4 separate regions of the Homo sapiens genome follow, and all the other regions are reported to be linked to region 2. Evidence: microRNA targets listed by miRTarBase, many of them from high-throughput screens and not tested one by one. Region 2 holds a microRNA gene; each other region holds the end of a gene's coding sequence. Distances are between the middles of the regions.
Evidence for each region. Region 2 holds the annotated microRNA hsa-miR-6077 (GGGAAGAGCUGUACGGCCUUC, at 3,212-3,232, opposite strand). A microRNA usually pairs through its seed, bases 2 to 8, with sites in the 3' UTR of a target mRNA and lowers its output. Matches are read on the target gene's strand: a 7mer-m8 pairs with bases 2 to 8, a 7mer-A1 pairs with bases 2 to 7 and ends in A, and an 8mer does both.

Region 1: miRTarBase lists DUSP7 as a target of hsa-miR-6077. Seed matches in the 3' UTR shown: 7mer-m8 at 2,996-3,002 and 7mer-m8 at 2,924-2,930.
Region 3: miRTarBase lists SPRED3 as a target of hsa-miR-6077. Seed matches in the 3' UTR shown: 7mer-m8 at 3,875-3,881, 8mer at 3,556-3,563 and 7mer-m8 at 3,252-3,258.
Region 4: the mRNA of PADI1 is a reported target of hsa-miR-6077. Seed matches in the 3' UTR shown: 7mer-m8 at 4,047-4,053.

The regions. Positions count from the first base shown.
Region 1 is chr3:52,046,785-52,053,983 of GRCh38, forward strand. It overlaps DUSP7 (dual specificity phosphatase 7), which reads right to left. Exons shown (of 3, transcript NM_001947.4): 2 at 7,156-7,199; 3 at 2,135-4,338. The coding sequence ends at 4,031. LOC124906238 (a long non-coding RNA gene) reads left to right here. Exons shown (of 2, transcript XR_007095908.1): 1 at 1-538; 2 at 1,035-2,174. Among named protein-coding and RNA genes, the nearest start is that of DUSP7, 6.2 kb to the right of the region's middle. RefSeq lists an enhancer at 1-735.
Region 2 is chr1:148,384,327-148,391,525 of GRCh38, reverse strand. MIR6077 (microRNA 6077) reads right to left here and starts at 3,244; the gene lies at 3,163-3,244. It also overlaps the pseudogene RNU1-155P and the pseudogene RNVU1-2. RefSeq lists an enhancer at 3,102-3,941.
Region 3 is chr19:38,395,706-38,402,098 of GRCh38, reverse strand. It overlaps SPRED3 (sprouty related EVH1 domain containing 3), which reads right to left. Exons shown (of 6, transcript NM_001394336.1): 6 at 2,512-6,393. The coding sequence ends at 5,954. Among named protein-coding and RNA genes, the nearest start is that of FAM98C, 4.2 kb to the left of the region's middle. RefSeq lists a silencer at 1,782-1,940.
Region 4 is chr1:17,242,336-17,249,534 of GRCh38, reverse strand. It overlaps PADI1 (peptidyl arginine deiminase 1), which reads right to left. Exons shown (of 16, transcript NM_013358.3): 16 at 3,528-5,525. The coding sequence ends at 5,292. PADI3 (peptidyl arginine deiminase 3) reads right to left here and starts at 437. Exons shown (of 16, transcript NM_016233.2): 1 at 306-437. The coding sequence starts at 397.

The sequences.
Region 1 (7,199 bases), not on the chromosome of region 2:
TGAATGTGCAAGTGAGTAAGTGTCTTGGATCCTCCTCCCATGGGAACACTAAGCGGCTAAGGAGTGGACCAGCTCCCCGGGGTCCAGGCTGAAACGGAGGCAGAAACAGGGACCAAGGAGGCAAACAGGCTCAAGAGAGCAACAGGACTGGGGACAGAGATAAAGCAGGTGCACCCCCAGAGAGCCAAGTGTCCAAGAGCTCAGGACGGCTGCGCTGAGGGCCTCAGCCACAGATGGCCTGAAGCAAGCAGGGCCCGCTGGGGAGAGCATGGCAGAAACGGGGTGGGATAGGAGGAGCTCAGGACACGGGGCCATGAGATGGGAGCCCAAAACCCAGGGGTGGGGGACCACAGTCCAGTAAGCGTGGCCCGGCCCAAGGTCACAGAGCAAGGACCCAGGGCCCCAGCCTCTCAGCCATGACCTGGCCCTCTGTCCCCCAGCAGGGAACCTTAGCCAGGCCCAGTGCTGAGGTAGGAATTTCTACAGGTAAGGAGGACACAGACGGTCAGAGAGACCACTGGCCCCAGAGTGCACAGGGGTAAGTGGCGGGGCTGGCCCTCTTCAGGCAGTCCCAGTCCTCCGTCTGAAGAGCCGGCTCAGGAGGCGGCTGCCACTCCCACCCCCACCCCGTCCTGTGCTTGGGCACGCTGGCACTGCCAGGCACTTACTCGGTTTGTCGAGGGCCCAGCCCCCAGCCCAGCACCCGCGGGCTTCCCCAGGCCTGGGCGAGGGCAGCAGGAGGGAACAAAGGCCCAGTCTCTGCCTGCTCAGGCCCCCACCCCCTTTGCCTGCCCCTGGCACAGAAGGAACAGGGCCCTGAGGGAGCCCAGGAGCAACAGCAGCACCGCCCCCTTGTCGAGGATGCAGCAAGAAGCCCCCTCCTACCCACAGAGGCCTGCCGGCTGAGCGGCAGGATTCTTCCACGCTCCACATGGGAGTGTTAGGGGGTAGAACTGAGGGACTGCAGTCACACAGCTGAGATTTGCACCCAGGCCCCACAGTGGGCAGAACCTGCCCTCTACCCCTCTCCACAGGCTGCGCATGATGGTTGTGACTGCGTTCTGGTGCAGACTAACTGAAGAGCAGAGATGAGGGAGAGAAGAGAAGGAGAGCCTTGGGCACCCCAACAGAGCAAGTCCCAGGCTGAGCCGCCCTCACCCTCTCGGCCCTACCTACCTACCTTCCACCTGGATCCAGCTCAGTGCTGATCACACAGTTTGCTGAAGGGATAGAGCTGGGGAATGTCAGAAATGGGGAAACTGAGTCAGCTTCCAGGCCTCTTAAGTCCTTGACTGGGGCTCACCTGATCCAGCCAGAGGCAAGGGAGACCTAAGCCACTCTGGAGCCTCCATTTCCTGATCTGTAACTCGGGGCTTGTTGTCCACTGGGGCCTCACTTCCCCAGACTGTGGCCCCCATCCTTCTCCAGACCTCCTCCCTGCTCTAGCCCAGGGCCTCGCTTAGACCCCCACCCCCAGGGGAGCCTTGACAGAGGCCCATGCCCACCCTTCCTTGTACACGCCTGAGCACGGCTGATTCCTCCCTGTGAGCCCAGGCCAATAATGTGCTCTTCATGCCACAAAGCTGAAAAGCACTCAGGAACCAGGTGCAATCGGCCTAAGGGACCTGTCCAAGGCCACCCAGCCCTTAAGAAGCAAAGAAGGGCTGACCTGTCACTACCCACTGATATCTCAGGACCTGCAGGGGCAGGGTTAAATGCACATTCCCCTCTCACCCACACGGCAGCAAGAGAAAGAGTTAGGGTCCTGGGGGCTGCAATCTGGGCAATGCCTAAGCAGACAGCCTCAGACAATGAAGGGCGAGTCAGGACTCAGTTGTGTCAACTTGGTATATACAACCTCTCCAAGCCTTGATTTCAGCAGAAGCCCACAGAGAAAGCCCTGATGCCTCTGCCTGCCAGTGCCTAAGGGCTGGGGAAATGCCACCTGCCCCAGCTTCATCCAGAAACTGTGGCTGCTCCCTCCCATCTGCGGGGCACCTTGATTAGTCTAAGTGGCCAGCAGACCCCAAGCAGAACCAGGCCAGTGCCTCACACAGAGCAGGCACTAGGATGCCTGTCGACAGCACTCCTTCCCCTCCTTCCCAGGCCCCAAGCCCTTATCGGACACGACTCATTTTAAAGAAAAAATAATATTTATTTGCAATATAAACAAAGTCCCGTTGTTGGTTCGGGATATATATATATATGTATGTGTGTGTATATATATACGTAGGGTCACAAATCTTCCTTCATAAGATCATAAAGCAAAACTGGCCACCTTCTGGCATACCCTCATTTACACAAATCTGGTACATCTTTCTGGGTTTTCTTTTTAAAAATAAAAGAGAGAAAAAGAGAACCATGTACAGCATGGAAGCTTGTTGTCAATTTCTCGACTGTGGCAAGATTTTAATCTGCTGCGCTAAAGAATCCCTGAAAGCCACCCCCGTGAGGTAAGAAGCAGTGGGGCAGAGTTTTTCTGTGGCCTCACTCACATGCTGAGTGCTGCTCCGTCAGGGACCCTGGCCTGACTCCTCTGCCTGCCCCAGGCCCCCATGCAGTCCTGACACCTGGTGGAACTGAGGCTGGAGAAGGAACAAAACTGGAGGAAGATAACGGAATCCGTGGCTTCGTTCTGTGGAGGCAGGGGGAAGTGAACAGAGCCTTACCCCCCTTCTGCTGGTCCATCCTTGCCCCACTTGCCCCCGCCCTAGGGTTGAAATGGGTGCAAGTCTCCTGGCAGTAGAAGGCATGGGCAAGATGAGGGCAGGGCAAGCTTCCAAGGGGACAAGGGGGCTGGGAGTGGCCAGACCAAAGCAACAGCTAGGGAGAAGGAAGAACCTGGAGGTCGGGCTGGGCCCCACCACCTAATGTCTCCCCAGCCACTGGGCCTCCACTCCCAGTTACAACAAGAGAGAGGAAAGGAAGAGAGAGGGAGGGGGGGAGAGAGAAAGAAAGAGAGAGAGAGGGAGAGAGAGAAAGAGAGAGAGGGAGAGGAAGAGAGAGAGACAGACAGACAGACAGAAGTAGTGGCTAAGTATATAAAAGGGCTCAGAGCCCAGGCCTTCTTAGGGGCTGACCCCAGAGGGCTAATGCTACTGCCTGGCAGCCCCCTGCGGCCCACCTCCTGGGGGACAGCGGCAGGGCCCCAGGGTCCCCACCTTCTGCCTCAGGGAGGTCTGCAGGGACCACCAGAGGGATGGATGAGACGGCAGAAAATGCAAAGACCACCATCCAGCCCACCAATCACAACTTGCAGCAGTCATCACAGGCGAATGCAGAGCTAAGTCAGACTGGGCCAAGGGTGGGAGGCGGCACGACTGGGGGTCCCAATACCTGAAGAGCAGTAAGCCACCCCTTCAAGAAGGGCCCGCTGAGGAAACAGAGGCTTCACACATGTGCAAAACGCATTTGGTCAAGGTCAACATGGCGTCTGTCTTTTCCATTAAAAAACAAAAACAAAAACAAACACGATACTTGCTTTTTGAAATTGAACGAAAAACAAAACTGAACATTTCTCTCTCTTGCAGGATCAGGAAAGGGATGAAATACTGGGTTATACAATCCACTGTTGCATGTAGCCTGAAAATAACACTTTTTGTTAAAAAAAAAAAAAAAAAAGAAAAATCAAGAAGAGCTCAAACACTCTTTGTGCTCCAGGGAGCTTGGATTTACCTGCCAAAAGTAAAAAGTAAACTCAGGTCCGTGGATGTGTCTTTAAAAAACAGCCAAACTGGCTGGGCTGTCAGCAGAAAGGAGCGTCCTGGACAGGATGAGGCCCTGGTGGACGCCCAAAGCCACGTGTCCAAGAGCCGAGGCCTCTCCAGCAAGCCCTGCAGTGGGAGACCTTGCCTGCGGGCCCTGCCCCCAAGGATGGTGAGGGGCGCTCCGACACCGATCAGCCTGGGCCTCTGGGCACAGGTGACATCTGGGGGTTCCTCAGGCCAGAGGTGGCGGGCTTGGGCTCTCCCACCTAGCCCTGTGGAGAGCCGAGCAGGGGCCTGGTGCCATGCCCCCCGTGCACCAGGCCTCACGTGGACTCCAGCGTATTGAGTGGGAACAGGTTGTGGTTGGTGGGCGTGGAAAAGTAGAGCTGCTCACTCGACGCGTGGTTGTCGCACGGGCTGCTTAGCCCCAGCGTCCGCTCAAAGTCCAGCAGCTGCCCCATGAAGTTGAAGTTGGGCGAGATGTTGGACTTTTTCCTCTTGACAAAGTCGTAGGCGTCGTTGAGTGACAGGTTCATCTTCTGCATCAGATAGGCCACAGTGACCGTCACTGAGCGGCTGATGCCTGCCAGGCAGTGCACCAGGACACCACACTTCTTGGAGCGGGCTTCGTCTGAAACACATTGGCATGGGTCAGGGAGGTGCCTCCTTCAAGGAGCCTTCCCACATGGGTGGGCAGGTGGGGCTGGGGCACAGAGGGCAGCATGGTGGCTGGCTGGTCTTGCCCGACCCCTGAGGGACCTGGCCAAGCCCAGTGTGGGTAGGGCAGCAACTTGGAATAGAGGTCAACAGCACTGCTGTGGAGAGGGCTCTGCACACTTTAGCCCCAAGGCACTGGACACCCGTGTCTGTTTCCTCATCTATAAAATGGGCCTATTTATGCACAGTGGTCTCATAAGGACCTGAGCCAAGTGAGGGGTCAACAAACATGAACTACTGTAATGCCTGTGATCATGGCTAGTCCTACCACTGCCATGTGCGTTAACGACTGCTGTCACGGGTGTCACCTGCATCCTCTTGGGTCATCTGCACCATGGCCAGTAAGCCCATTTTATCAACGAGGAAACAGACACAGAGACAAAGTGGCAAGCCCAAGGCCACACAGAAGCTCCTCCTAGCTCAGCGCCCGCTGCTGCCAGGCCATGACCTGGGACTGGGGGCTGGGCTGGTTCTCTTGGAGCCGCTCCCATGGGTTGTCCCTGAGAGTCTTCTAGGAAAGTGGCCTGAGGGAGGCTCCTCTGGAAGGAAGTAGGTGGCCTGGCCCTGCATTTCGCTCTGCCATCTGCCCAGCTAGTCCCCAAGGCCTTAACTCCAGCTCCTAAGACACATGGACTGGGATGATGGCCACACTATCACTTGTGATGGGGCTTCATAAGTGAGGTGTGCTTAAATGGGCCCCACCCCTGCCACTTGCTAGACCTTCCTCAGGAGGCCCATGTGTCAGTGATATCTCCTACCACAGCTGACTGGATGGGGCCAACCTTCCTGTCCCCTTTCCCCTCCAACCCTCCCAGCTTCCCCCAGTGCCACCCTCAGACTCCTCTGTCTGACACATAGAAGCTCAATAAATACTGGCCGAGCTACTGAACAACTCAGTCCTGTAATCTCTCCTGGACCCCGGGGCAGCTGCCTCTCTGTGTGCCACAGCTGTGCCAGGGACATAGATTCACAAGAGGCAGCCATGGGGTCCTTGATGTCCCCACCACCCTGACTCTGAACCCTCCAGGAGCCAGGCACACAGCTAGCACGCAATCAATGCCTTCCTACAAGATGACATACGGGTTCACCCACTGTTCTTCGTTGCCTTTGTCCTGACAGAGCTTCCTCTCCCATCCCCTCCCAACCAAGGAGTAAAGCATACAGTAGGTGCTTCCTCCAGACTCAGGGACTGACAGGGGGCCCCATGGCTAAGGCACTGGGGCAGGATCATCTGGCAAGGAGACAGACATTGCAGCTTCATGAGGAGCTGTGTGGTCAGACCTCGAGATTGGGGGTGGGAAAAGGGGGTGCTGGGACCAGCCTCCAGTGGTGACACCAGGATGTGAGGAACGCCTGGCCTCCAAACCCACCTCCAGGTGATCCAAAGACAGTCTGTTTCTGCTGGCTTTATTTTTGGCCTTTTCAGGGTGTAGCTGGTGACTGATCCTGTCCCACTGACTCCTAAGGGATGCCTGGGCCTCAATTCCTTCACTTGTCAAATGAGGAAAAAGGTCCCCCTACCCAGACGGGGAGGAGCTTTCAGGAAGGATAAAGGTACCCACTAGCCAGGCCCAGCCTGGCGAAGCCTGCTTCCCTCTCTCTATTCCCCTCCCTCGTTGGGGGAGTTCAAATGCTGAGGCAGCACCCCTAGCCCTCTTGACCCAGGGGGTGGTGGGCAGGGCTGAGAAGCTCCAGGCAGCCCCAGTTGCAGCCCCTCCCCCAGGCCTCAGCTTCCTTCCTTCCTCCCAGCCAGGCACCTACTTTTGGTTCCCAGTAAGCGGATGAGGCGGGGAAGCCTCCCACTTCCTGTTGTTAAAGCTAGCCCAGCCCAGCCGACACCAAAACGCCCTCCACTGGACACAGCCACCATCGGGAAAAGACAGCCCGGGCCACCCCCACACCTTGCCACTGGAGGCTGGGCAGAAACATTGGGTCACCAGGCTCAGAGATAGAGCGTTTACATTCATCCTGAGCCCTCGTGCCCCTTCCTTGCACCCTGGGCCAGGGGAGATGACCTGTGGTCTCAGCCTCCAGCTGGCCAAGGAGAAAGCAGTGGGGACCCGAGTCTGCTGAGGCTGGGGATACAGGGACTCGAAGGGCACTAAGCCAGACAGCAGGACACACTGCTCTGGGGAAGGCCTTTCTCCACTCCCCCACCTTCTCTTGCACTCCTCCCTACACTCCAAGCAAGCCCTACAGGCTGCAGAGAGCATCTGGAGGCTGACTGAGCTAGCAGTCACCACATTTCAATAGCTGCCTGTTTGGGGTGTGCCTCTGGCTCCAGGGCTACCTTTCAGCCCTCTTAGGTCCACATTAAAGCCCAAAGAGGCACTATGACAACCCCATCCTGGAGAGACACGTGTGCTGAGGCGTGATGCGGAGCAAGTGAGACCCGTGGGAGGTCTGTGCGCTGTGATGTTTCAGCTTGCTAAGCCCGAAACAACATCTAAGCCAGGAAAACACAAGCTGGACAGCAGAGAGCCCATGACGTGCTGTCAGCTAGGGGGAGCTCAGGACTCAGGAGACTGCTCAGGCCCCAACAGGTAGAGGGGCCCAAGGGACTCGGTGACTCACAGTAGGCCTGGGTACACCCACGGGCACACGCTGGCACACGTAGGGCACACACAGGTCTCAACAGGCCCAGAGGTACCCAGTCAGGCGGGGGCGCCACCCAGAGTCCTGCATACACCTTGATGCACCCACACCCCCCTGCCCAGCACACAGCACCTACCAATGAAGCTGATGGCCTCAGGGAAGAACTGGGAGAGGTTCTGG
Region 2 (7,199 bases):
GCCTCACAGGCTAGCTGTCTTTGCTCATTCCTGCACAATTTCTCCCAAGCTATTTTTGGGAAAAATTGAGTTTATAGTTCAAATCAGGGGTCCCAAACCCCCAGGGCCACAAGACAGGTATTGGTCCATGGCCTGTTAGGAACCCAGCCAAACGGCAGGAGGTGAGCTGCAGGCTTTCGAGCATTACCACCTGAGCTCTGCCTCTTGTCAGATCAGCATCAGCATTAGATGCTCATATTAGCTTGAACCCTATTGGGAACTATGCGTGTGAGGGATCCAGATTGTGCACTCCTTATGAGACTCTAACTAATGCCTGATGACCTGAAGTGGAACGGTTTCATCCGGAAACTATCCACCACCCCCTTCCATGGAAAAACTGTCTTCCATGAAGCCAGTCCCTGGTGCCAAAAACACTGGGGACAGCCAAAAAGTTTGGTTAAAATGATAACCTTCCCCAAAGCTAAATTACCCCTGTAAAACTAATGAAAGGCCACCAAGTTAGGAGGATGAAAGGGACCTGAATTCTACTAAGATGTATGCCTCATTAAATAATCACCAGCCATTATTCCAGAGGTCACAAGATTTGCAGCTTCCCCAGTTACTGCTGTGAAGAACATCACTATTGTAGAACCTAAGATTGGCCTCTTGAGATGTCTTTTCAGGCTTTTGCATTTCTGACTACTGGATGGCACCATTTGGCCCGAAAATCAATCAGTCCCTTAGCTCCCACCCAGAAGCTGACTCAATGCAGGAGGGCCATTTTCCACACCCCTGTGATTTCATCCCCAACAATCAGCACCGCCCAAGCCCTAGCCCCCTCCCCACCAAACTGTCTTTGAAAAAACCCTTACCTCCAAGCCTTCAGTGAGATTGATTTGAGTAATAACTCTGTCCCCTACATGTCATGGCTAGCCTGTGTCAGTTAAACTCTTTACTGCAATGCCATGGTCTCCGTGAATTGATTTTGTGTGTACAGTGGGCAGGAAGAACCCATCAGGTGGTTACATCTGCAGGATGGTGCCAGTTCTTTCCACAAAGGCTGGTCAGATACCCAGAAAGTATTTCTCCACTACTACCTGGACAATGTGTCTCCCAGTCAGTCTACAGGGAATGGGGTCTGGATCAAGTATTTCACATTCAGCAGTTACTACGCTGTCACCTAATCCCTCATTTTCAATATTTTGCCATGTCTTCCAGTGGCCTAACTGGCCACCATGCCACAGAATCTTTACTTTGTGGTCTCCAAAGAAGAATTCTCCATTTGATGTTTTGTGATTTGAGCAATGGAATAGAATCTGATACTGGTGGGCTGGGGGAGGTCCCCGGACACTGGTAGGATCTCGACCCCAGCTGTGGTGTCCAGGCTCTTGACACCATCTCAAGAATGAGGTCAAGGATGAGTTAGCAAATAGTGAAAGAAGAGATTTATTGCAAAGCAGAAAGTACACACTCAAGAAAGGGGAGTTTGGGCATACCTGAGAGAGAACAATGGGTTCTGGGGTTTCATCTCAATGGGTTTCTTTAACCAAGGAGTGGAATATTGATGAAAATTCCTGGGTAAAGGTGGAGATTTCTCAGAACTGTGGTGCCATCCATTTTTACATCAAATATTGGTCTCAGAACTGTCATGGCACTGGTGGGTGTGTGATTTAGTATGTTAATAAGCGTATAATGAGGGCCTAGGTAAAACCTACGTCAAATCCAGCACCACATTGGGTCCAGTCAGTCTTAGCCAGCTTGGTCCACACCCTGGTTTTTCAGCATCTTATCAGCCCATAGCCTCAAGTCATGTAAATCTGCTGCCTAGAATTTGTTATCCTGTGACCACCCTGTATTATTCCTGTCTCAAATCTACTTGTAAATATTCAAATGGTCTTTGACTTGGGAATTCCAACTTTGCTTACTTCACAGTGTTTCCTGCATTATAATCCCATATAAGAAAAGATGATCCAGACATTTGTTAAGCATCACAAATAAGATGTATCCCAGGTATTTTTGTCAAATTTGGATTATTTTGGTTTTGTCTTTGCAGAATATAAAAAACTAACACGAGGTAAGCAATAAGGTCTGGAGATGGCTGTGCAAAAGATGACAAAGTGCAACACCACATTTGAGAGTGTCCAATCATTTCTTCTGTGGCAGCATATTTTTCCACAATACTGAATTTGGAAAAAAATAAAAATAAAAATAAAAAAAACTACAAGATTCATTAAACTTGACAACTGTTTTTATAACATTACCAGTGATAAAATCAGTAAGGAAGGCTGGTTTGCAGTCATCTGAGAAGCCTCTTTACTTTCATAAATATGGTTTCTCTGTGACATTGAACGGCTTCCAATTTCAAGCGGAATGCTACATTACAAGGATAAGTATGTGAAGAAAACCGGTTTCTTTTGTAGTCCTAAACGTTCTAGTCTGCGAAATAAAAGTCATTATGTGAAGAAGAGTACCCAGGCTCCATCTGGCCACCGAAAGTTTGCTTCACAAGATAGGCTAAGGACCAGCTTCTTTGGGCGAAAACAGATGCCGGGGCGGGAGGGAAAAAGGGAGAGGCAGACGTCACTTCCTCTTGCTGGTTCAGGCAGCGGGTTGGTCGGCTGACTGGCAGAAAGGCAGATGGGGCCTGGGAAAGGCACTGTCGGTGACATCACGGATAGGGCGACTTCTATGTAGATGAGGCAGCGCAGGAGCTGCTGCTTCCCCACCTGCTGCTTCGCCTCGAAGGAGTTCCCGAGCCTTGGGAGCGGGCTCAGGACCGCTGGTCCGGCCGGAGAGTCCCAGCTGTGTGTCAGGGCTAGGAGGGCTGGGGGGTGCGCGGGGCAAGCGACCGTGCGTGTAAAGGGTGAGGCGTACGGGGCGGAGGTGCAGGAGCTCATATTTACTTGGCAGGGGAGATAACATGATCACGAAGGTGGTTTTCCCAGGGCGAGGCTTATCCATTGCACTCCAGATGTGTTGACCCCTGCGATTTCCCCAAATGTGGGAAACTCGATTGCATAATTTGTGGTAGTGGTACTGCGTTCGCGCTTTCCCCTGATTTTTTGTAGTTTCAAGAATACGCTGTACTCTAAGGGCTACTTTTTTCTTTCATTGATTTGTGTCTTGGACGTGTTATTCTTACAGTGGAAGGCTGGGAAATAGGAATTAAGATGTCGCTTCTCCCACTGAGGAGAAATAGGGAGCGTCAGCCTTAACACAAACAAACTAGCGCGAAGGCCGTACAGCTCTTCCCTTTCTACGCAGGGCTGCTTTTTGCAGAGATTGGTCCATGGTCTCCAGTGTCTTGGGTTCTCACGCTCTGTGAAAATCTTCGTGGTTTTCTCTAGCCCCCAGAGTCACCTTTTACACAGCCCCTGCTTCTAACCGCAGCCCCCTCAGGAGTTTGTAGGATTTCTGTGCTAGCGGGGAATGTGTTCTCACCTCATAGAGCCAGGTACAAACTACGCAGACAGGCGCTGTTCTTTGGGATGAAAGCAGGGCCTTTGGGGCTCTTAGTGTCCCCGTTCATTTGCAGACATAACACGCTTACTTTGTGTAGGGGAATGGCTTTCCCGGAGCCCAGGTGCCCTAATGCAATTCGTGGAGGCCCGCAGGTCAGAACCGCAGTCTTACTTGTCTTGGCTGAAATGCGCTGCGATCCTCCCTGAAATATAAGGCAGGAAGTTTTATGAGCAGCGGGGTCCAGTTTCCCTATTATCTCCTGCTGTTTACATATCTAGTCTTTCTTCAGACTTTATTTAAATGACAACTTCTTGTTTGATGTCTCGCTTCCATATCCTACATCCATTGCCAGGCAACTTTTTAGATAGCACCCCGACCCATCCTTCCCACCCCCAAGCAGCCCTTTCCTACTTCTGGCGCCAGTGTCCTTCCCGGTCCGTCTTTCTTCAGGCCCTCCCTTATCACCTTCATGGACAGAAAATACTTAGCTCTCTTTCAACCTGCAGTTTGCACCTGACACGCGTCAGTACCCTGGCAAATTCCTTAATACCCCTTCTCAAATGGCACTGTAAATTCATCTCTTTTTAACTCCCAGAAGTATCTAATTGGTCTTGTCCCTGCATTGCATGAATACTAGTATTCCACTACAAAAGAAAACCCCAGGCCTAGAGATGGCGGTTCTGGGCATTGTGCCAGCATTTCCCAGGGTATGTTTTCTGACCTCACCTACTTCTGATCAACTGAGGTCAGGAGTTCGAGACCAGCCTGACCAACATGACGAAACTCCGTCTCTACTAAAAATACAAAAAAAAAAAAAAAAAAAAAAAAAGCAAAAAAAGCAAAAAAAGCTGGATGTGGTGGTGTGTGTCTGTAATCCTAACTACTGGGGAGGCTGAGGCAGGAAAATCGCTTGAACCCAGGAGGCAGAGGTTGCAGTGAGCTGAGATCATGCCATTGCACCTCAGCCTGAGCGACAGAGCGAGACTCTGTCTCAAAACAAAACAAAACAAAACAACAAAAAAAAACTAGGCCATCTGAGACATATTATTGGAGACAGTAGAATCCTGCATCCAACAGGCACTTGGTGCAGATCTGAACCCACTGAATTATTGGCTCATGTTCCGTCTGTTTTATTAAGTATCATGAGCAGAAATTGAGCTCTTTGGCTTTTACACACTAAGTATGGCTATAGGACAGGTCTCTCTCTCTCTCTCTCTCTCATTATTGTGTCATTATTTTTTGCCATCAGTGTGGGCTTTTGGTTTTGATGTTATGAAGTGAATTTGTATGGACAATTTCTGTTGGGTGGTGTTGACAAGGATCCAATCCCTGTTTGGTAATACATGACAGCTAATCTGCTCTGTGAGACTTTTTTTATTGTCTATTTATTGTCCTGAGAATAATGGTATTTCCTGATATTTGAGACTGCAGCAATGATAAGTTGTTCATATCTTGTCTTTCCAATGTTTGGTAAAAATTTTATGGGCCCAATAGTTGTCAATATCTGCAAGAGTGGCATCCCTGTTACAAGAGTGATCTTACTACTCAATGTCCCCCCTCCCATCAAACTTCGTTCCATAGGAAGTCTTGGCTTTAACAAATTTACTATATCTAAAAGACATCTTAGTACAGGAAGAAAACCAAATCTGTAGCATGTAAGGAGCAGTTTTCTTTGATTGGTATATTCAGGTTTCTAACCAGCTGAAAAATTCAAATACATGTCCTTTAAGGATTAAGTTTAAACCACACTACAGAAAGGAGAGAAAAGATTTATATGATCACATATAAGCAATGGAATCAGCAATATGAGCACTTTTCACAACTATACAAATCTAATTTAATAATCTCCAGAACATTAAGAAAGGTATTGTCGGTGACATCATCGATAGGGCATTTCTATGTAGATGAGGTAGCACAGGGCTGCTTCTTCACCATGGAGGATTTCCCGTGCTGTAGGAGCAAGTCCAGGACTGCTGGGTGGACGTGAGAGTCCCAGCTGTGTGTTAGGGCTAGGAGGGCTCAGGGTGGTTGGGGATTGGTGGGGGTGGTTCTCAGAGCAAGTGACCATGCGTGTAAAGGTGAGGCGTATGGAGCTGTGGTGGGGCAGAGGTATGTGGACTGCCACTTACCTGGTAGGGGAAATCCTATGGTCACCAATAGTGGTTCATCCTAAGGTTGAGGCTCATCCATTGCACTCCAGATGTGCTGTTCTCTGTTATCTCCCCTAATGTGTGAAGCTCAGCTGCATAACTGAGCTTCACAGTACTTGACTGACTCCAAGGCCAGCAATAGATAGAGCCCTAGCAGATCCTTGATAACACTGTCTGAAAAGCCAGAGCCCTGAGGAATTAGTTCCAGAGACTCTCTCAACACAGTCTGCCCCTAGCAAGGATAAGAGGAAAAAACAACAAATCCCTTTACTACCTTCTCTTTTCCCCTTACCATTTCTTATTATTCAAGTTTTAAGTTCCTGATTTCCTGTCAGTGCAGCTGCAAGGTCACCAGCTATGCTTGCATTGCAAGACCGGTCACAGTTTGATTAGCTGCCTTTGTTCTGCTTCTGTAAGCCCTCTTGCCTGCACCGTGAGTTTTGCACCTTCAAATTCCCACTGCACCATTCAAACTAGCCAACCCCCTTTCAGAAGTGTGTGTAAAAGCCAAGCCTTGTCTTTGTTCAGGGCTCAGCCTTTGGATTTTAATATGCTGGGCCTGAGTACACTCAATAAAGTCCTCCTGTTCCACCCATTGGTCTCTCTGTTCTCCTGATTCCCACAACAGTAGTAGGGGACTGTGTTCGCACTTTCCCCTGGTCCTTCATGGTATGAATAATAGACAGCCTTTTTTTCTTCACCTATAGTCACAGGCTCAGTCTCAGTGATTGTATGGTGTGGTCAGCTGTTTTTGTTTTTGTGAGACCTTGTTTTCTTTTTTATTATCCTGGGACAGATGTCTGTAGTCACTTGTTTCCTCGGGAGGCAAATTTCAGTCTCTGTGGGGGAGGTCTCTCACATTAGCTGTGGTGGTACTTGGCAGGTGGAGCTCAGGGATCTAGGCTTCCCTGCTTTGTAGATTGCTCAATGGTCCCCAAGGCCCACTGGCTTTTAACACCACTTGAAAACCTTAGTATTTTTCTGTTGACCTCTTACACAGCCTCTTTTTGTTTGTTTGTTTGTTTTTTTCCCTGAGACAGGGTCTCACTGTATCTGGTGGCATTTTGACTCAAGCAATCCTCCCACCTCAGCCCTTGGAGTAGCACAGGCACAAGCCACCACAGCCGGCTAATTTCTGTGCTTGTTTTGTTGTTTTTTTGTGTTGTTTTTTTAAGAGTTGAAGTTTTGCCATGTTGCCCAGGTTGGTCTCCAACTCCTAGACTCAAGTTTAGAAACTGCTAGGATTACAGGTGTGATCCATCACACCTAGCCAGCCCCTGCTTTTCACTATAGCATTCATGGGAGTTTGTAGGATTTCTGTGCTGGGGGGAATGTGTACTCAGTCCATAGAGTCGAGCAGAAATTGTACTTGGAACTGGTGCCGATGGGTTGTAGACATAACATCCTTGCTCTTTGTATGGGAAAGGCTTTGCCGGTACCCTGGTGCCCCTGCGCCAGGGCATCAAGTCCTGCAGGTCAGAACAGCAGTCTCACCTATGTGTTCATGTAATACGCAGCAATTCTCCCTGGAATATAAGATGGGAGGTCTTGTAAGGTTCTTACAAGTAAGACGACTAATTTCCCTGAAGCTTGTTTTGACAAAATTCA
Region 3 (6,393 bases), not on the chromosome of region 2:
CAGGTTTGCCTCTAACTCCAGTGTTCAAGCAATCCTTCCCTCTCAGCCTTCCAAAGCTTGGGATTACAGGCTTGAGCCAGTGTTCCTGGCCCTGTCCTCTGCTCTTAAAGCAGCCCAGACGGAGTGGTGTTCACCCAACTCTGCCTAAAATCCAAAACTTCCTCCCTCCTTTCCACCTCAGGGTTTGAATTACATAAGGGACCCAGGAATCCCAGCACACCCCTCACACACCAGGCCCTCCTCATCGATCACGATGTGCCTGTTAGGCCTTCACTCCTCTCCCTCTTAGGCCTTGGAGTGAGCAGGTGCAATGCACCATAGTGGTTAAGAGATTACACCCTAGGAATCAGGCAAAGGGTTAGGGCTTGATTCTGTTACTCGCCAGCTCCATGTTCCTGCCAAATTGCTTCCCATCTGTATAATGGGGATAATAGTACCTACCTCTTAGAGTTGTTGCTGAGGATTAATTAGAGTTTCATATGTAAAAAGTGCTTAGCAGATATATAGGGAGTACTTAATAAGGAATAACTAATATATATACAGCATTTAATGTGTACTATTGGGCGAAGTATCTTATCTCTTTTACAGAAGAGAAAACTAAGGTTGAGAGAAGATAAGTCACAGAGTGAATTCATGGTGATGCCAAGGCTTGAAGATGAAATTCCAGACTCTATACTCTTAAACCACGGAACCTATTTCCACTGTTACTACTGCTGTTGTTTTGTTGCTGTTGCTAAGTAAACATTGTGTCAGATCTAATCTCTTCCTTACTGTATCCTGGTATCCAGTAGTTCCTAGACAATTCTGCTGGAAGTTGGGGGTGGACCAGGAGCCTGGAGGGAAGAACAGGGGTAGAACTTGTTCCTTAAGGGCAGATACGAGTAACCCCATAACCCTGTTTACCCCAAGGCAGGACACTTGGGGGGCTATTTTTTGACATAAATCAAATGTTAAAAATTGCCCAGAGGTGGGCCACAGTGGCTCACACCTGTAATCCCCGCCTTTCAGGAGGCTGAGGTGGGAGGATCGCTTGAGCCCAGGAGTTTAAGACCAGACCAGGCACCATAGTGAGAACATGTCTCTACAAAAACATTTTTAAAATTAGCCAGGCTTGGTGGTGTGCACCTGTAATCCCAGCTACTCGGGATGCTGAGGTGGGGGGATCACTTGGGCTCATGAGTTTGAGGCTGCAATGAGCAGTGATCATGCCACTGCACTCCAGCCTGGGTGATGAACTCAATTTAAAACAAAAAAAAAAATTGCTCCAGCCAAAAACCTGGACTTACTATCTTGACTCCTCTATCTCAAATCCCATACATAAATCTGTGGGTTCTATTTACAAAGTAGGCCCAACACCTGCCCACTTCTCCACCCTTCAGGGCCCTCACCCTGGGCCTGTCCGCTGCTGTCTTGTCCTGAACCATCACAGCAGCCTCCTCTCTGTGAAGCTGTCCCCCACCCCACTCCTACTCTGCTGACCACATGCAGCAGAAGGAGCCTGTGAACTGAGTCAGGTCACATGCCTCCCATGTTTGAAATTTCCTGTGGCTCCGTCTCACTCAGGGTAAAAACCTAAGTCCATTCAATGCCCTTCAAGGCCTGACAGATCTGCCCCATCGCCTCTCTGCCCTCATCTCCTAGCGCTCTCTTCTCTGCTTCCTCCCCTCTCAACACTCTAGCTCCCTGAAGCTCCTCAGACTTACCGGACACACTCCTGTCTCAGGGCCTTGCACTGGCTGTTCCCTTTACTTAAAATACCCTTCCCTGCAGACATCCCCAGAACTCCCTCACCTCCGTCAGGGCTTTGTTCAAATGCCAGCTCCTGGCTAGGCACAGTGGCTCACACCTGTAATCACTTGGGAGATTTCCACCTGGAATCACTTGGGAGACCAAGGCAGGTGGATCACTTGAGGTCAGGAATTCGAGACCAGCCTGGCCAAAATGGTGAAACCCTGACTCCACTAAAAATACAAAAATTAGCCGGGCGTTGTGGCACCCACCTGCAGTCCCAGCTACTCAGGAGCCTGAGGCAGGAGAATCACTTGAACCCAGGAGGCAGAGGCTGCAGTGAGCAGAGATCATGCCACTGCACTCCAGCTTGGGTGACCGAGTCAGACTCTGTCTCAAAACAACAAATGCCAACTCCTGAGGAGGGTCTAACCTGGCCACTCTAGCTAAAATGGCATGTATCCCCCATTCCCACTTTTTTTTTTCTTTCTGCTTTCTATCATTTCTAACATATTAAGTCATTTACTTATTGTCTCCCCTACTATAAAGCTCATAAGCTCTTTGCAGGAGGGACTTTTGTCTGTTCTGCCCACTGCTTTATCTCCAGTGCTTTCAACAGGGCTTGGCACATAATTAGGTGCTCAATAAATGCATTTGTTGAGTGTCTTATAAAACTCAGCTTGAGGGTCTGATGGGAGAAGGGAGAATTTAAGTAGGAGACTGGTTTAGCAGTTCAGGAAGGTGAGTGGGTGGGGTGCACAGAGGCAAATAAATAACACAGGCTGAGACTTTGTCACAGACATTTCTTGGAGCAGATCTCGTGCCCCCTCCCCCGATGACAAGGCTGGGTCTTTGGCCCCCATCCTCCCCCACCACTTCAGCCTGCACTGACACTAACAATATTGAGGTCACAGACTGGCTTAGAAACAAGATCAGGAAGATATATGTTGGGGTGCCTCCCCCAAATCTGGGGGCCAAGCATCCGATCTGAGGGGCAAGCGGCTGGGAAATTGGGCCTGGGGGCTCCAGGGTCTGAGGTCTGCCTGGCTCCCAGGGCGGCCCTCCATGTACCCCTGATTTGGGGGCAATGAAGGGGAATCATGGATCAGAGGTGGGTCTCAGCAGGGAGCAGGACTGGGGGACCTGGGAGAGGCGCTGCTGGGAAGTGGCGGCCAGGGGACCTTTCCTTAGCCCCCACCGCTTCATCTGCAGATCCCACAGCACCGTACAGCACTCTGGTCCCCCGTCCCACCCCTCCCCAAAACGAGGTAGGTTAAGAATGGAGCTTCCCCCCCGCCCACCATGGAAGGGGGGAGACCGAGGCACAGAGAGGGGCATGGGGACCCAGGCTGCCCCAGCCCCCAATCCCTCCGCCCTCAGCTCTGGTGGGTCTGACAGTGATGAGAGCTGGGCAGAGTGGGGAGGGGAGAGACACCCCCGCTTTTCTCTCACCCATCCCAGGGTCTGGTTGGGAGTGCTGAATCTCACAGGTTCCGGATGTAATAAATAGTTAATAATTTAAAGGAAGAGACAGAGGACCTATCCCTTGAACCCCAACAAGGCCATCCAAGTCTGGGTAATGAAGAAAGGTTAAGTGCACAGTTCCAGATGCTTGGGGCCAGATGCAGGTCCCAAGCCCATACAACATTGAGACTGTCTTGCTCCAAGACCTTGAGGCCCCCATACAGGACACCAGATCTTCGATCCACTGGAAGCCCCATTTCACTTGGGGGAAAAAAGCCTGTGGCACCCCCCTTTGCACAGAAGAGACTCAGTGGGCCATGAAACAGGCTTTCAAACTTCCTGAAGCAACTTCTCACTCTAAAGTGGAAGAGAGCCAGGTGCAGTGGCTCATGCCTGTAATCCCAGCACTTTGGGAGGCTGAGGCAGGTGGATCATGAGGTCAGGAGTTTGAGACCATCCTGGCCAACATGGTGAAACCCTGTCTCTACTCAAAATACAAAAAATTAGCTGGGTGTGGTGGCACATGCCTGTTATCCCAGCTACTCGGGAGGCTGAGGCAGACGAATGGCTTGAACCCGGGAGGGGGAGGTTGTGGTGAGCCGAGATTGTGCCACTGCACTCCAGCCTGGGTGATACAGCGAGACTCTGTCTCAAAATAAATAAATAAATAAATAAATAAATAGGAAGAGAAGGGGTTAATGGAGGGGGAGAACATAAAAGGTGGGACTTGAACCTGGACTAGGAATTAAGGTTGTGCTTGAAGGAAGGTCTGCAAGACTGGGGGCTGTGGGACAGCAGAGCCATAACTAGCCTGAAAGTTTCCATTGCACACACTTCTTCTGAGGGCACAGTGTGGCCAGCAGACTGGTGTGACTTCCAGCTCCTCGAAACCCTGGGCTGTGTGCCTTCACTTAATGAAGACCCTGCATAATCATCTGTGACAATGCTGGGTCCTAGACGTGACAGTGAGGGAGCTCCTACTTGGTCCTTTTTTTTTTTTTTTAGAGACGGTCTCACTACATTGCCCAGGCTGGTCTCAAACTCCTGGCCTTAAGCGATCCTCCTCCCTTGGCCTCCCAAAGTGCTGGGATTACAAGGCATGAGCCACTGTGCCCCACCCTGGGTGGTCCTACAATGAGTTCCAAATGGTAGGGATCCCACCCTAAGATAAAGGGGTAATTCTGAGGATTGCTGGGGGCTTGGGCTGGGATCCTTGGGACCAGAATTCCAGAGGCTGGAACCTTGGGGTTTTAGGGGCCTATGGATGACAGGATTCAAGGGGCAGCAGGTCTCTGAGGTCCGACAAGTGGGGATGGGGGAATCAGGTGTAGAGGCAACTTGGGGTTCATCAGACTAGAGAGGTTTGAATCCAAAGAAATCTGGGGTCTGAGGGTGCTGGGGTCTTGGGGCACCTCGAATCTGAACGCCTCTGGTATGGAGGGATGAAGGTCTTGGATCAGGAACAATCCCAATGTTGTAGGGTCTTGAGCCTTGCATTTGGGGGTCAGTGGCACCTTTGGGGTATTGGATCCAGTGCTCCTAAAGTACCTTAGGGTCACTCAAGGGCTGAGGGCCAAGGGCATCAGAGGTCTGGGTCACCATGAGCATCCCCTCTTCTGGGAGCTGGACTCCCAGCCCTTAAGGGGTTGGGAATCTGTGGGTAGAAAGAAGCTGAAGATTCCAGGACATTTGGGGTCTCAAAATCCAGGTCCAGGAGGGACTGCAAGAGAGGGCTATTTGAGAACTCGAGACCAGTATCTCGGGTCCTGAGGTGTTGGTGGCCTTCAGTCGCACATCTGAGGACCCCAGGCACCTCTGAGTCCTATAAATGATATCCAAAGCTCCTGAGAACCCTGGCTTGGGGGTGGGTGGACCTATGGAGGTCTTTGATCCCTGGCTTCCAGAGCATCTTGGTGTCTGATATCTGGATCTTGGGGGCTCTGGGATGGGTCTCCCAAGTCATTTTGGTAAGAGAACAGCTCGTGTTTCAGTATATCCGAGCACTCAGTGCATCTTAAGAGTCTGGGGTCCCAGGGTGTCTGGGAGTTCCCTGGACATCTTAGACTTCAGTGTTCCCGGACTGGAGGCCAGGTCTGTGGGCACTAAGTCGTGGGTAGATTTGAGGGGCAGCATCTGGAGATTCCAGAGCATAACAGAGTTTCAAACTCTGTTTGAAACTTTCTCAGGGGTCCTGCTGTCTCAGGGGTCCTGGGACTATGAGAATGTCTCAGATGTGGGGGCACCAGGTCTTAGGTGAATATTCAGGAACTGTTTGTGGGTGACTCCAGGTCCTATGGTCTCAAGATCTGATCTGGGAGTTGAATAAAGGCAGAGCCAGTTATGGGCAAGTCCTGACTAATTGTGGGGCTGTAATCTGAGGGACATGGTGCCAGGCGTGACCGGGTTCTAGGTTGTTCATTTCAACAGGGACCTGCCCTTTTCGGGATCTATGTGCTCCCTGGCCTTTCTGAGATGCAAAGTATGGGGACGCCTGGAGCCTCCTCGTGGGGTGTGGGGGTGGGGGAACGCCAGAACTCAGGACGCCTGGGACTTCTTAGACAGACACCCCAATGAAGCTGGGGCTGGGGTCTCTCAGTCCTAGGTTTGGGTTCCAGGTTCCAGGTCTGAGATCTCTCAATCCAAACTCAAGCTCCAAGTTCCGGATGTGCCTAGGTTTGGGTTTTAGGTCCGAACGGAGTCCGGGGTCCTGGACCCTCAATTTTGGGTCCTCGGGCCGGCTAGGGGACCCACCAGGCCGTCCTCACCGCGCAGCCTCCTCGTGGCGACCCCCGCAGCCGGCGCAGCCGCATCGCGCTGCGACCCAGTGGCACGCGCGCAGGGGCGCGTAGCAGCAGAGGCAGGGCACTGCCAGGGAGAGCGCGGCCAGCGCGGCCCAGCGCGCGGCGGGGCGCGGGTGGCCCGGCTCGCAGGCGCACGGGTCCGAGAAGTCGCCCTCGGCGTCCGACAGGCAGTGGTAGAGCAAGCTCTCGGCGCACCACAGGCAGCTTAGACGGCGCACCAGGAGGCGACCCGGGTCCGGGGCCTCTGCGCAGCGGCCGCCACGCCCGTCTGCTCTGCGACGGAAGAGCGCGCGGCAATGCACGCAGCGCGCTGCCTCCTCCGCTTCCGGGGAGGCCTTGGCAGGCGCAGAGGATGGGCCCGGGCCGGGGGGTGGGCGAGCGGGGGGCGCTGGGGGCGCAG
Region 4 (7,199 bases), 130 Mb from region 2:
GCATCCCTTGGACATAGAAAAGTGCCATCTCTTCGCGGCACCAGCCCCCTCCAAGCCCCCGGTCTGGAGCTCAGTCACTGAAGCCTCTTCTACCTGGCTCAGCCTCCCAAACTTCAAATTCCCTGGCTAAGGTCTTCAGGAAACTCAGTAGAGCAAGAGGAGGACCCAAGCTTCCCTGATTGGCTGCTGTTCCGAGGCCAAGGCTGGGGAGTGGGCCCTGAAGAAGCCCTGCCCAGCCTGCAGGGAGGAAGGTCCAAGGGCATCAGCACCAAGGGCCTGCAAACCACTAGGCCTCTGACTCTTACCCATAAATGTCCACGAGGGTCTCCACGCCAGCCACACACACCGCGCTGGTGGGATGCTCCAGGGACACACGCACGATTCTCTGCAGCGACATGCTGGTGTTGGACTTAGCTGTGGCCGCCAACCCCAACACTGCCCCTGAGGCCCCTTAGGATGAGGTTTAAAAGCCCCTGGCCCCACCCCTCCAGCCCAGGGTGCCAATTCATTGGCTCCAGTCATGAAAGCCCAGCCCCTTCCCAGAGCTGAGAGCTCAGGATTGGCTGGAAGGGACCCAGTATTTGTATACGAACCTGTTGTCCCGACCCCGGCACCCAGGAAGTTAATTTCTTGGGAAGCAAGTCCCCACAGGTACCTGGCTAGGCACCAGGAACTGTTGGGGGCAGGTGCTGTTGAGGGGGTGCAGAGATATATGATATTGATCTCGGACGCTTCTTGCTTCCTCACCTCCATTTTCTGCATTTTCAGAGACTATAATGGGGAGCTTTCTTACTCTGCTGGGGAAGCTGGTGAAAATGCGGATTCCCAGGTCTGTTGTCCACTCTGATCCAGCAGGTTAGGGGTGCAGCCTGGCCTCTGGATTTTTTTTTTTTTTTTTGAGACGGAGTTTCACTCTTGTTGCCCAGGCTGGAATGCAATGGTGCGATCTCGGCTCACCGCAACCTTCGCCTCCCAGGTTCAAGCAATTCTCCTGCCTCAGCCTCCCGAGTAGCTGGGATTATAGGCGTGTGCCACCACTTCCGGCTAATTTTGTATTTTTAGTAGAGACGGGGTTTTTCCATGTTGGTCAGGCTGGTCTTGAACTCCAGACCTCAGGTGATCCACCTACCTCGGCCTCCCAAAGTGCTGGGATTACAGGCATGAGCCACAGCACCCGGCCCTCTGGATTTTTTAATAAGCACCCCCAAAGCATTTTGGTGCCCTTTGAGAAACACCAACTTTTTTTTTTTAATGGATTTTAGAGCCAGACCTGGGTTTCAGCCCTGCCTCAGCTGCTTCCTGGATGGGCGACCTTGGGCAAGTTTCTTTTTTTTTTTTTTTTTGAGACAGAGTTTCGCTCTGTCACCCAGGCTAGAGTGCAGTGGCGTGATCTCGGCTCACTGCAAGCTCCACTTCCCGGGTTCACGCCATTCTCCTGCCTCAGCCTCCCGAGTAGCTGGGACTACAGGCGCCTGCCACGGCTCCCGGCTAATTTTTTGTATTTTTAATAGAGGCGGGGTTTCACCGTGTTAGTCAGGATGGTCTCGATCTCCTGACCTCTTGATCCACCCGACTTGGCCTCCCAAAGTACTGGGATTACAGGCGTGAGCCACCATGCCCGGCCGGGCAACTTTCTTAATTGTTCGTGCCTCACTTTTCTCGTCTGAAAAATGGTTGCTGTGAGGCCTCAGGGGCCAGCGTTGGTAGAGCTCTGGTATGGAGCTTGGCGTTATTGTATTACTATTGTTGCTGTTATTAGGTCCCAAAAACCTCTGAAAGCGGTAAATGATGAGGGTGAGAACTCTCTCCAGCCAGGGGGAGCTTGGCATGTCAGAGTAGGAAAGCTCAGTCGTCAGGTGGGAAACCGAAGTCAGAGGGGCATTCAGGCTCCTGGAAGAGCAGGAGCAAGGGCTCTGGGGAGAGAAGTCTTGGGTTCAGAGGCAGGCTCCACCGTGCACCCACTATAGGGCCTTGGGTGTCAGTGTCCCCCCTCTTGGAGACTCGGTTTCCTCATCTGTAGAAAATGCAGCTAATCACTGGCCCTGGCGGAGATAATAGTGAAGACGCACCCTGCCTGGCGGAGGCTCAGGAGGTGCTGAATAGAGGTTTCCTCCCTTCTCCCTGGCAGTGCTGACAGCCTGAGACAGGATGGGGACCAGGACCCGCTCCCCAGCATCTCCAGCTGGGACATCTGCACCAGTTCAAGGGCCTCAACAGGACCCTGAGATTGTCATTCCCATGTCTCAGTTTTTGGGAAAGATGTTCTTTTCAAGGAGAACTGCTGGGCTTCTGGGTCAAGGGACAGCTTCACTTTTTTCAGCTGTGGAATGGCTTGATGGCTGAGTCAGCCTTGGGAGCCCTGGGTAAGAGTTCGAGCTCAGGAGGAAGCCTTAGTCTCCCTAGCCTTCTTGTGAGCACAGATGGGGAATAGATGCAGAAAGTAGGGGCTTTCCCTGGGGTGCTGGCCCACTACCTGCCTCTTTCTCGGAGAACTGTATATGTCTTTGGAAGGAGACTCATGCCTTCACTTCTCCTCTGTTAATACCAACTTTTAGAAACAGGTTTGTGGTTAATTCAGACTAAAGTGTCAATGACTAATAGGCAGCAACTTTTTGCCCTCTTACTCCACAACAAAAGCTAAAATAAAGTGAGTGAGTATCAAACGGTGTAATTTGAGGCAGCAGCAAATGTGTAGGATGAGAGGGTGATGATTTCAGGCATCCAAAATCAGACCACTGAAGCCAGGTAACTTAGAAGCTTCAGACACAAAAATGGAAGGGAATTGGGCCAGGCACAGTAGCTCACACCTGTAATCCCAGCACTTTGGGAGGCCAAGATGGGAGGATCGCTTGAGCCCAGGAGTTTGAGACCAGCCTGGGTAACATAGCAAAACCCCAGCTCCGTAAAAAATAAATTAGCAATTAGCTGGGCATGGTGGCCTGTGCCTGTATTCCTAGCTACTCAGGAGGCTGAGGTGGGAGGATCGCTTGAGCACAAGAATTCAAGGCTATAATGAGCTGTGATAGCACCACTGCACTCCAGCTTGGGTGACAGAGCAAGACTCGGTCTCAAACAAAAGAAAAGAAAACAAAACAAAACGAAAACCAGAAAGGGAACTGTAGTGGCCTGTGGCCCTGGGAACCAGCCCTGCTGGGGAACTCTCACCTCTGTTAATAGGGCCCGGGCTGCCTCCCCGACCTGTTGTCCCTGAGAGATGGAGGGGATGCTGAAGGAAGAGAGAAGAGATGAAGAGGCAGGACCCATCCCTCCCCTGATCTGATCTCCATCTTAGCAGGGCCATCAGCCCCAGAGCAAGAGGCAATGTGCCAGCCATCCTGCTGAATCAGCCTGCCTGGCACTGGCCGTGGCACTGGCCGTGGCACTGTGAGGCTCTCCTAGCTGAGCAGGGGCCGCCTGTGGCAGCAGAAATTGAGCCAAGCAGCTTCATAGTGGATGGAACTGGAAGCAGTCTTCTCCGCTTTCCTCCCCTCCTCCCCAACCCAACAAACAGGCTGGGTAGACAGCCCTGTAAGAAATGCATGTCGACATTTTTATTGATCAGAAAGTAGGTGACTGGTCACCCAGAACATTCTCAGAGCCAACACCAGGGCCCCTCGATGGCCCAGCAGCAACTCCAGAGCTTCCCACACTCAGTGTGGCCCCGACCCCCAGCCCTATCTCTGCAATGCTCACTCCCTTCCTACCCACAGCTCTTTCTCAGGGGAGTCCCAACCCCAGCTCACACCCCCGGCCCCTTCAGAGCCTCCTTCTCCTTCTTGACTCAGTGCAGGCTGGGGTATGATCCTGAGCAGAGGACGCTCAGGTTAAAGCAGGAGCTTGCAAATAGAGTTCTGTAGAACCTTCCAGAAGGGGATTTTCAGGTTCCCGCTCACCCACTTTAACCATAGCAGTTCCAGGCTAGCTTTTGTTGGTTAAAACAGTGACAGTAGTTGGCTCAGTGTGAGGTCTCAGCAGGGGCCACTGAAAACCTAGATGGACCGAAGCCCTAGGGCCAACTGCCCTACAATGGCCTCACTGGCAGTGGGGGAAGAGGGTAGGCTGGCTTCCTCCTGCCCGTGCCCTGCAGCCCAGCTGAACCAGCCTGCCTGTGCATGTCTCAGTGACCTCACTCCGGGCTATTAACCTCCCGTGGCAGCTGTCTTCCCTACTGTGGGAGGGGACATGGGCCTGCACAGCGGTTTATTCAGGGATGAAACCTAAGCTATGTGCAGGGTCCCTGGGTTGCTGAGAGAGACCGGGCAAGCCTTCCCCTCCCACTGCCTGCAGAATGAAGGGGAATAATTAAAGACTATTAAAGGAAATTAAACTCCACCTTCAGAGATAACCTAATTTCCTCCCAACACACACACCCTCTTCTAACATCTGGCCCCCTACCCCTGCTACATCTGGAAGCTCCAGCTCCCTTCAAATCCAGAGTCCAAAATCCCAGCCCAGGAACCACGGACACCTCTAGGCCCCCAAATCCGTCGTCACACACTCTGCTACCCTGACCTCATCCCCTCCTGCCCCGTCATCCTTTGTGTGTCCTCAGGCCTCACGTTGGCTTCTCAGCATTTCTGAGCTGGGAGAAGCCAGCTCTGGTAATTAAAGTCTTTCCAGAAAGGTAGCAATCACTCTTCTGAGGTCGGAGTCAGCTATTAAAATTTTGTTGTCTTTTTTTCTATTTAAATTGGCCCTTGGACACTGGGTTTTTCTGTCCTTGTTTGTCCACACACAGCTGAAGGGTGCTGGATGGGGGTGGAGGTAAGTGTCACAGCCTTGGGTCCCCTTTGGGAGAAGAAACCTAGAGCGGGGAGAGGATGTTTCTGATCCCCTTTCCTAGTTTTCCAAGAGCAGAGGCAGCCTGGTGCCTGGCACACCAGACCCCAGGTCCCCCAGGCCCCGTTCCAGGTGCAGATGCAAAGTCATTATCCTTGTTCCCCAGGGAGGCATCAGAATGAAGGGGGAGCAATTCTAAGTGGGGCCCATCTCCCTAGGCCTCCCACAGCCATTCTGGAACATGCTAACATTGTTGATCTAGAGCCTCTGGGGGCTGTGGGTGGGAAAGAGGCCAGGGAAGAATGAGGTGCATTCTTCTCGGGTTGGGTAGGCCATTCCAGAGGCGAGGGTAGGTGGTATCCATCCCTGTGTCCTGGTGCCCATGGTGGCCAGGATGTTTGCAAAGTGCCAAGACTCCCCCAAGAGAATGGAGGCCAGGTGGTTGTTCCTTGCCTTCACCCTGGCAGGGTTCCCTAGCAAGAGGGCAGAGAGGATGGCGGGTGGGGGCAGGCTCAGGGCACCATGTTCCACCATTTGAAGGGAAAGGGCTTCCTGCGCACGTTGGTGCCACAGTGGATCTCCCCCTGCAGCTCGTGGTAGGACAAGTAGTCATCAATGAAGATGCAGTGCAGGCCCAGAGGCTCCAGCAGGGACTGCACCTTCTCCTCCAGGCAGCAGCGGCCATTGATGATGGGCCCGTAGGGCTTGGGGATGCCCAGGTACTTGCCTAAGACCACCATGTTAACCTGCAAAAGAGAAAAGGCAAGAGGGAGGCTGTCTGGCTATAAGTGCTGTGCTTCTGGCACCCCTTCCTTGCCAGAATGAGACAGGCCCTGGGGAATGGGTTGGCCATAGCCACAGCCTAGAAAGGGCTCTAGGACTGGAGTTTGCTCAAGAGTTAGGGCCTATGAAAGCAGAGGAGAAAAAGATTCAGGGTTGGAAATGAGGTTGAATAACAGCCAGGACTACCAGGAATTTTGTACATTAAAAAACAAAAACAAAAAACAAAAAAAAACTTCTCCCACTCTTTCTTTCATCTATGAGAAAATTGTCATATTATAGCAACTTTGTTAGAACAAGAGATTTTCGTGTCATCTGCCAGAAACTTGTACAACAAATATACACACCTACAAGGTCTGTGGTGTGGATGTCTTCCAAAGTGTGGTGTGCTTTTGCTGTGCACAGCTTGCTTAACTGTCTTTGGCAGCCCTGATCATTGTTAGCATTTATTGAGCATCTTTTATGTGCCAGATATATCATCACTAAATGCCACAGCCTCCCTCTGAAGCTGTGGCTCAGACAGGTTAAGTCACATAATCATACAGCCAGAGAATGATGAGACTGACATTTGGACTTGGATCTGGCTGGTGCCAAAATCCATGCTTTTTATCTGGCCACCTGTGGGACTGAGGAGTTGGGGGAAAGGGCTGAAAAAGCCTTTGGGGACACTTGAGTTTAACTCTGGGGGCACCTCTCCTTCCCTTGGTTGCGGACCTGGCTTGGGGCCCTAATCTGGGGATGGGAATTCTCCCCCATGCTGTGCTATGGGGGTTTCTTAGAGGAAATCTCAGCCCAGGTTGATGGCAAGAGGTCATAAGGGGTGACCCTTGGTGTTCAAAGGGGACTCCGGACCTTCTCTCTAGAGGGCGGCTCTGGGCTGTCTTGAGTTTGAGGTGAGCCTGTCCTGGACTCTGCCCTCAAACTCTCCGTGCTCTGCCCCCCACCCTCAAGTCTGCCCCACCCTCATCCATGGCAGGGACCAACATAAAGCTGGAGGGTCCCGTGAGGTCAGTCCCCTGGCCTTGGCCCTGAACTACCTCTTTGCCCACTAATGGGCCAGAACATGCTGGGGTGGGAGTGGGGGTGGGGCATGCAGGGGGCAAAGGGCAGAAAGAGGAGAAAAGAGCCAGGACCAGGACCAGGACCAGGGCCAGAGCCAGCCAGGCCTCTGCTTCCTCCTAAAGGAGGAGTCATGGGATTGGGGGCTGGTCCCAACTCCGCCACTCGCTCACTGTGTGACCTCAGACACATGACCCACTCTCCTTCTAAGCCTCAGTTTCCCCATATGACAAACCAAGGGGTTAACTGGGTGTTCCCTATGGGACCCTCCAGTGAAGACAAGCTGGGATCCTTCAGCAGAGCCTGGAACGAAGCTAGGGAATCCCCACAGGATGACCCACAGTCAGGGGCTTCCGGCAGATGGAGGCCAGACCACAGACACACACGCTCCAGCCTAGGCCCTCCCCGCCACCTTCAGCCAGAACCAGAGCTCAGCAGTCCCTTAGAGCTTTGCTGTCCACCACAGTAGCCACTGGCCACATGCAGTTGTTTAAATTAAAATTAAACTTACATAAAGTTACAATTTCTGTTCTTCATTGACACTAGCCACATTTCAGGTGGTAGCTGAGTGGCTACTGGAC